Homo sapiens: one gene and its partner. The protein of the gene in region 1 purifies or fractionates together with the protein of each later gene. This does not show direct contact. Each region holds a gene or a part of one and is shown in the gene's direction. Other genes may lie near its edges.

Region 1 (3,825 bases):
ATAGAATAAATGGGAGATTAAAATTTAAAAACAAAGTTCTGATTAGAGATAATACATTTTCCTGTAAGACAATACATTTTCCTGAAAGTCTTTGCTTTGGGGAGTTGGATTAATACAATATGGGAAAGGAGAGCTGACCCAAGTGCCAAACTTGCTGTATTGTATGATATTGGTTTAATCATTTCTTGCCTAAAAAGTGAAAGCACATGCTTACATTTGCCATAATGATTATCTTGTGGGTCAAGTCCTGTCTGTTGTGTTTGGCAGAACAAATGGACACAGTCACAGGGCCAAATGAGGAGTTCACACCAGTTCTGGGATCTCCAGTGACACCTCCTGGAATAATGGTGGGGGAACCCAGCATTTCCCCTGCACTTCCTGCTTTGGAGGCATCCTCTGAGAGAAGAACTGTTGTTCCATCTATTACTCGTGTTAATACAGCTGCCTCATATGGCCTGGACCAACTTGAATCTGAAGGTATTCATGCTTTGAAGGGGATCTTTTCAAGGACTGGTTGAGTGAGTCACTGAGCAAATGTTTTTGAAAAAGAATTAAGTAGGAGTATATTCAATCTGCAGTATAGATCAGAGGACAGTAAACTACAGCTGGGCCAAATCTGGCCTGCCACTTGTTTTTGAATGGTTTGTAAGCTAAGAATGGTTTTTACATTTTGAAATGATTGAAAAAAAAAGTCAAAAGAAGAATAATATTTTGTGACATAGAAAAGTTATAAAAATTCAAATTCCAGTGTTCATAAATAAAGCTATATTGGAACACAGCCATACTAATTCATTTTCATATGTGTGTGGCTGCTTTTGTGCCATAGCAGCAGAATTAAGAAGCTGTGACAGAGACTCAGTGGCCCACAAAGCCTGAAACATTTATGATAGGGCCCTTTATAGAGCAAGTTTGCTGACTGTGCTATGGATCTGTGGTTCTCAACTATAGTTGACCATTAGAAATACCTTGGAGAGCTTTTGAAACATCCCAGTGCCTGAATCACTCTCCAGTGATTGAGATTAAGATGGTGGGGGGTGGAATCTGGCATCAGCATTTTAAAAGACTGCCTTAGATGATTTCAGTATTCAAGCTGGATTGAGAATACTAGGTTAAGATGGAGATGTTGAGTTTCCCCACCAGATTTTCTTGGTTGCAAGTTTTAATGTGGGGTGTATTTTAACAGCATTGCTCTGGTTGTTAATGCTGGGTTATTCTCCCTTAGTAACATCTCTGGGTTAGTCTGTGCTACTATTTGGAGATAGGCAGTCTCTTTATTTACTAAGACCAAGAAATTCATGCCAAATTGTACTTTCCAAGACATTGGCTTTGAGCATGTAAAAGAAACTTGAGGCACGGCTGCCTATCAACAAATAAGAAGACTAGAAATATGACACATAGTCACGTAATTAATCAGCATTTTGGCAGGTGAATAGTTCCTGGCTGGAGATACAAAATGTCCAGAGATTTATAGTGCAGAATTTCTTAAACTAATCTGGAACACTGGTAAGCTTTTGGGCACTCAATTAGCCATGTGTTTGCTGCAGTAAGAGACATAGGATGTGCTATTATTTTTTTTTGTCTAAAGCGAAGGGAAGGAGGTTGAGCTAGGTTTGCAGCTGACTCTGGTGCAGACTTTCTGGGTAACACTGGTTGGCTGCTGACAGAGGAACATGACATTTTAGGAGCAGTGTGGAGAATTCCACAGTAGAAGCCTGGTTTAAGAAACAGATCAAAGTGGGCTCAAAGGCTAACAGCTCTTGCATTCCACATTAAGATAAATACTGTATGACTTTGAGTTTAGCGTCTCATATAAACTGTCTGCTCTCCTTGATGCCATCTGGAAAAAGCAGGTTTCCCTAAATTAACCTGAGTTAGACATGACAGCTTTACCCAGCAGGGCTCATTAAATCAGAGAAAAAAAATATTTGTGAATAATCCATACTTGTGAAACTGCAGTAACTTTCTAAATTTAGTAGATGATGGCAGTTGTATTGAAATATGTTAGAATTTTCCGACATGCCTAAGGTGTCCTGGGGTTTTAGTTCTTTTCTTCTACACAATTCAATTTTGCTACTTTTTGATAATATATTTTGTTAGTTTTTGATCTAAATTATCCTTGTCATGGGTTACAAAAATATTTTTGGTCAAAAGATATTATTTTTGCTACATTGTCGGGCTTAGGATTTTGAATTAGCACATTTTTACTCGTAAATGCCAAGGAGTACAACTTATGTTTAATTAGTATACGTTAATAATACCATTGTTAGTTTTATGCTGGTGCTTCTAGTCCTCCAAAAGCTGAATTGACTACACTGATTTAAACAAATCAACCTACTAGACTCCTGGATGTATTGGAGGCCTCTATTTTCAATGCATGTTTTTCTACCTTGCCCGGGAATATAAGTGCAGCTTGAAGCTTTGACTGGGTGAAACATTTTAATTCTTCCATAAGCTTATGCCTAGAGGCAGGTAATTTTTTTTCTTATCTAGAACCCTGTATTACTTACGTCAGGTTAGCAGCCTTTCTTGTTTTAGTCTTTGTGATGAGTTTATATGTTATTTTAATATCTTCCTTTTTCACTAGGGGGCAGGAGCATTTCTCTGGGAAATGAGGTACTTTTCTCCATGGGATTTGGAAAGGGACATCCTTTGTTAGACATTAGACACCAAAGAAGAATGAACCTTTATGGAAATTTCTGAATCCGCAGCTCTGTTTATCCTTTAAGCGATAACTAACAGCCCAAATCAGTCTAAAAATGATGTCTACTTGCACCCTGTCTTCTTCCCTGCTTCTCACATCTCTACAACATGATGACTGAGAGGGGGTATGAGTTTTCAAGGGCTGTCATAACTAAGTACCACAAACTGGGTGGCTTAAAACAACAGAAATTTATTCTTACGCAGTCTGGAGCCTGCAAGTTGGAAGTCAAGGTATAGGCAGGGCTTGCTCTCTCCAAAGCCTCTAGGGGAGGAACCCCAGGGTTTCCTTGGCTTGAGGCAGCATGACTCCAATCTATTCACATGGCCGTCTGTGTCTCTGTGCTCAAGTTTTCCTTGCTTTTTAAGAACACCAGTCATTGGATTAGGGCCCATCCTAATGACCTCATGTTAATTATGTATGCCAAGACCCTGTTTTCAAATATGGTCACATTCACTGGTACTACCGGTCAGGACTTGAACATACCATTTTGAGGGACACAATTCAACATGTAACAGGGGTCTGCTTCTGAAGAGTTTGCCAGCTGTCTGTGAAGACAGACGTGCTACCTGAGTGATGTGAATTGGTAGAGTGGGAGAAGTTTTGGTGTGTTTTCCTTTTCTTAGTCACTGAAGAAAGCCTGCCTTGATAAGTGCCTGCCACCTTGTGCATATTTCAGTGTCTTTTATCTTGTCAGCAAAAATGCAGTTTGATTTTTGAAGGGATAATGGTTTATTTTTCACCTTGCCTGTTACATTTGATTTCTATGTATGACTTTTTTTTAGGGATAAATATTCTCACAATGATAAATGCCTTATACTCATTTCAGGCATACCTCTACGAGGGCTGTATTTAGCAGCTTTGAAATACAAACATAACAAACATGTTCTTTTTATTCAAAATGGGATAATGACAAATTTTATACATATTTTATAACTGCATAAATTAATTTTTGGACATGATCTTTGTATAGGTTGATTTTCTTCTCTTGTTGAATATTAATGTCTTTCCTGCTCTAAAATGCCAACTTAAAATTTCTGATTAGTCTTGAAAACATACCTGGAATTTATGTGGGTTAACTCTTTAAAATATTTTAGTACTAATATTTCTTACCTACTTAAAGAAGT
Region 2 (3,825 bases), on another chromosome or scaffold:
GAGTTCTTTGTAAGACCTTTTGTATTCTGGAATTTACTTTTTAAGGGACATTCATGTAAATTTCCCTTAGTCAGTTGTTCCCATTCCACTTTATTCCTCCTCAGTTTTTTTTTTGTGTGTGTGTGTTAACTGAACCTTTTGATGTTAAAAGAAAACTTTAATCTCTTTTTATAATATTTTGTTTCCTGGTTAATATTGTTTCTTTACCTCCAAGATCTCACCTTGCAGCATAACATTGGGCTTGGTTAACTTTTAGTTATGCTCATTATATAACCATTTGGTTTAGACTTTTTGTGTGACAAATATTTCCTCCAAGATTCATGTTTACATTACTTTTAGTAGCTACAGATAGTATTCTGTCAAAACTGTGTTTTTTAAACCAATTTTAGTTTTCACTTAAAAGTTTTTTTTCTCTTTGCAATTTCAAGTATTTTTTTGCTAACAAAAATTATTTAAGTGTATTTATGAGCAATTTTTTTTCAGAAGTAGAAGTGGCTGCATGTTTCTGATTCTGTGAATTTAGTACAGTCTAAAAACATCAATGAATGGGATACTTGATGTCTTTGAAAAGAAATTAAATAACATTACGGAAGATAAGATAAAGTAATCATCTAACAAAATAAGCTGTTACCACTAAAGTTACTTAACCATTAGTAATAAACAGTATCTAATCTAGCAAATATTTATCATGACACAAATGCTTGAGCAAATGTTCTCAGATTGACTTCTTATACCAAACCAAGTGTGTGTTGTGCTTATAGATGGGAGACTATCTTGAAAAATGTTTCTGCAGTCCAGATTTCAGAAACAAATGTACTAAAAATTTTAAAACAAATTTGTATTGTTGGAAATGGGAATTTCTAAATCAGAAGTTTGGTAGCAAGAGAGATTTTTCATGGAAATATGAGCTTTAGATTTGAAGTCAAGAGATTCTGGCTCTAGTTCCAACTCTGTAATTGTTAACACTGTTATTGAGCAATTAAGTGAACCTTCCGGCACTAAGCATTCACTTCTATAAAGTAGATTATGTGACAATATCTTTTAAGGAGTCTCCTAGTACTAATATCTTTTGATGAGTTTAAAATGTTAAGCAACATTCAAACAGATTTATGTTTAACCTGCATTTAGTTTGCAAAATCCTTCTGAGAGTGAACAATTCCCTGTTTCATTGGATACTTTTGGCAACATTGCTAAAACTGAAATAAAGTTAAGAAGCAAAGCAGTTATCTAATTGTGAGAATAAGTGTTTAGATTTGTATTGCCCAATAAGTTCTTTGAGAGATGTCAATAAAGGTACCCTTAAGGCATAAAGTTTCATTAATTCCTGTCAGCGATGCCTTTGTTCTGGTTATAATCTGAAAAGGGATGGCAAATTCATGTTCCTTCTTCTATTGATGTTTCAGCTTTAGAGGTTGCAATTTATTGACTCAGAAGGTCAAAACTTCATGGTCATCATACTAATGGTTAATGGAAAGAAAGTGTTTGTAGATTGAAATATGCTGTTCTCTGAGAGTTGTACATATGGGCATTGCATAATTGACAGCAACAAAGTATTTAATTTTGGAACTATATGAAACTTTCATTCAGCCCTTCTATTTTTTTTTTTAAATGATGATGAAGCTGAAGCCTAGAGAGACTAAGTGATTAGACTTAGGTTTTACAGGTCTCCAGAATGCCAGTAGAATGTCAAGATAACATATGACGTCTGCTTTCAGTGATAAAAAAAGCTTTCAGTTTATCTACACGTTGACCATTAAAGGTATATTCAGGGTCCACATCTGCTTTTAAGTAGCTTAACACTTGCATTAAAATGGTCCTTATGCTTATAAAGTGAATATGACACTTAAATTCAATTAAAGTAAGTACCCTCAGTAGCTGATATTCTCTGGTATTTGGATGGCAATAGGGTCTATATTTTAGTTAGTAAGTCTTTAGGGAATAGCTCTTAAGGAGAACATTTTAATATTTGTAAATTGGTTGGGAAGAGGAGTGAAGAAACAAAATGATTTAGAGATGAAAGGAAGAACCATTTCTTTTGGTGGGAATATAGATGATGAGATCTTATTTTAACTCTACTCTGTTGCTGTTTTGCAATATTGGAAAGGTGGCCTAACTTTTTGATGTCTCTGTATTCATTGTAGACCTGGAAAAGTAGTGTCCCAACCCCTTGACATTTTGGAAGAATTGCCTGGAAAGCAAAAGGTGTTTGGTGTTAAAGATATCTGTAATCATTTGAATTGGCATGGCAAATGATTACCATTTACCCCCAAATAAAAATTTGGAACTTTGACTTTGGCCATAGCCACTTACTTTTGCATTTGGATTAAGTCCTAGGGAATGGAAAACAAAGTGGACTTTATTTATTTTTAATTTAAAATTTTACTGCTGCAAATATTATAAAGAACAGCTTTGTTTATTTTTATACTATTGGGCCTGCATGGTGAATGCAAGCTATGAAAAAGTTTGGGTAAGTTGGGTAGTTGTTTTATACTTTGTCTCCTTTCTGTGCATTGTCAGTGTTAGTCACAGTGTTAGTGTGCATTGTCAGTGTTCTCCCACATTCCTCTCTCTAATGAGCTAGGCTTTTTGTTACAATGATGAAGATAGTTTACTTAGAACCTCTCAGTCTTATGCAGTTGTCACTTAGGCTCCAGAGGTCTCGGTATGTTTACTTATTGAGAATTACTCATGGCCATTGTTTAGAAGGTATTGAACGAGGTTCTTGCAGTCTGTGCTGGGTACAGAATTTAATTAAAGCTGTTATTCAAGACACTTTACTAGGGCTCTTGTGTTTAATCCACAGATTCAAAATGATCAGTGCCAGGAGATGGACACCACCACTGACAAGTGGGTAAAACTTACAGACAATGGAGAATGGGGCTCTCATTCTGTAAGTCTCTTTGTATTTCCTTCTTCTTTGCCAATTTTTCCTTCTTCTTTTTTTCCCCAACCTTTTCTTCTTTCCCAACTTCCCCTTCCTTTCATAACGTTTTAAGAAAAGTATATTTTAAGAAAAAATATCAAAATTAACTATTAATTTAGATGATTTCTGGTTACGGAAAAAATTACCCCTAGCTTCATGGACTCAGCTTTCAATTTTCAGGGTCTTTTTCCTACCTTTTTCTTTCTTCTTAGTTTCCTTTTCCTTCCCCTTCCCATTGTAGTCTAATTTTCCTCCCTTTCAAAGGGGCATCCATGAGAAAGAAGGCTGTTCAAAACTAATATACAAAACATTTGAGTTTCTAAGTTTACAAATGTGCCTGTCATATGTGATCGAATTAGTGGCTCTTTTCATTGGAAGGATCTGTGAATTCCTTTTATCTTTCTCTGCGCTGTGCCCAACAAGTGATATTCAAGCTTGTTTTGTTGGGTACTGTGCTGTCTCCATTTGTTGGACAGCTCTGTTTATCACAAAATATCTCTTTGGAGCCTCAACCTGCCTCCTACCTATTTGCCACACATTGGTTAAAATTCTACCTTCTCTGGTTACATGAAGTAAAGTAACTGCCTGCTTCCTTACAGGACAGCTCCTTAAATGCTTGAAGGCAATTACCAGGTAACAATTCAGTGAATCTGTTATTATTTGAGGCACCATCTCTTTGGAGTGAGAGAGACATGGATTTAATATCTAACTCCGGTTTATAGTTGTGTTTCTTTAGGCAATTTGCTTAATCTCTTTGTGTCTGATGTTTTCATTTGCAAAATAGGAAAAATCTTGCATGATTAAATCAGAAGATATGTGGGAAGGGCCTAATATAGTGCCTACAATATAGATCAAGCTCTATTTCAATAAGTGACCATCAATCCTTGTCTTTGTGGTTGTAG

Evidence for each region.
Region 2: the proteins of ARMH4 (region 1) and ELAPOR2 purify together in Homo sapiens (affinity purification with mass spectrometry; one large-scale study listed by BioGRID and IntAct). This does not show direct contact.

Annotation. Positions count from the first base shown.
Region 1 is NC_000014.9:58,128,164-58,131,988, reverse strand, and holds part of ARMH4 (armadillo-like helical domain-containing protein 4 isoform 1 precursor), read left to right. Parts: intron 1-267; coding exon 268-477; intron 478-3,825. UniProt on the Homo sapiens protein: May modulate immune response and may play a role in inflammation. Down-modulates STAT3 signaling throught direct interaction with IL6ST, resulting in the inhibition of phosphorylation of STAT3 at 'Tyr-705'.
Region 2 is NC_000007.14:86,941,083-86,944,907, reverse strand, and holds part of ELAPOR2 (endosome/lysosome-associated apoptosis and autophagy regulator family member 2 isoform 1 precursor), read left to right. Parts: coding exon 1-9; intron 10-2,803; coding exon 2,804-2,890; intron 2,891-3,522; exon of another isoform or gene 3,523-3,535; coding exon of another isoform or gene 3,536-3,556; intron 3,557-3,825. UniProt on the Homo sapiens protein: Functions as a regulator of the BMP signaling pathway and may be involved in epidermal differentiation.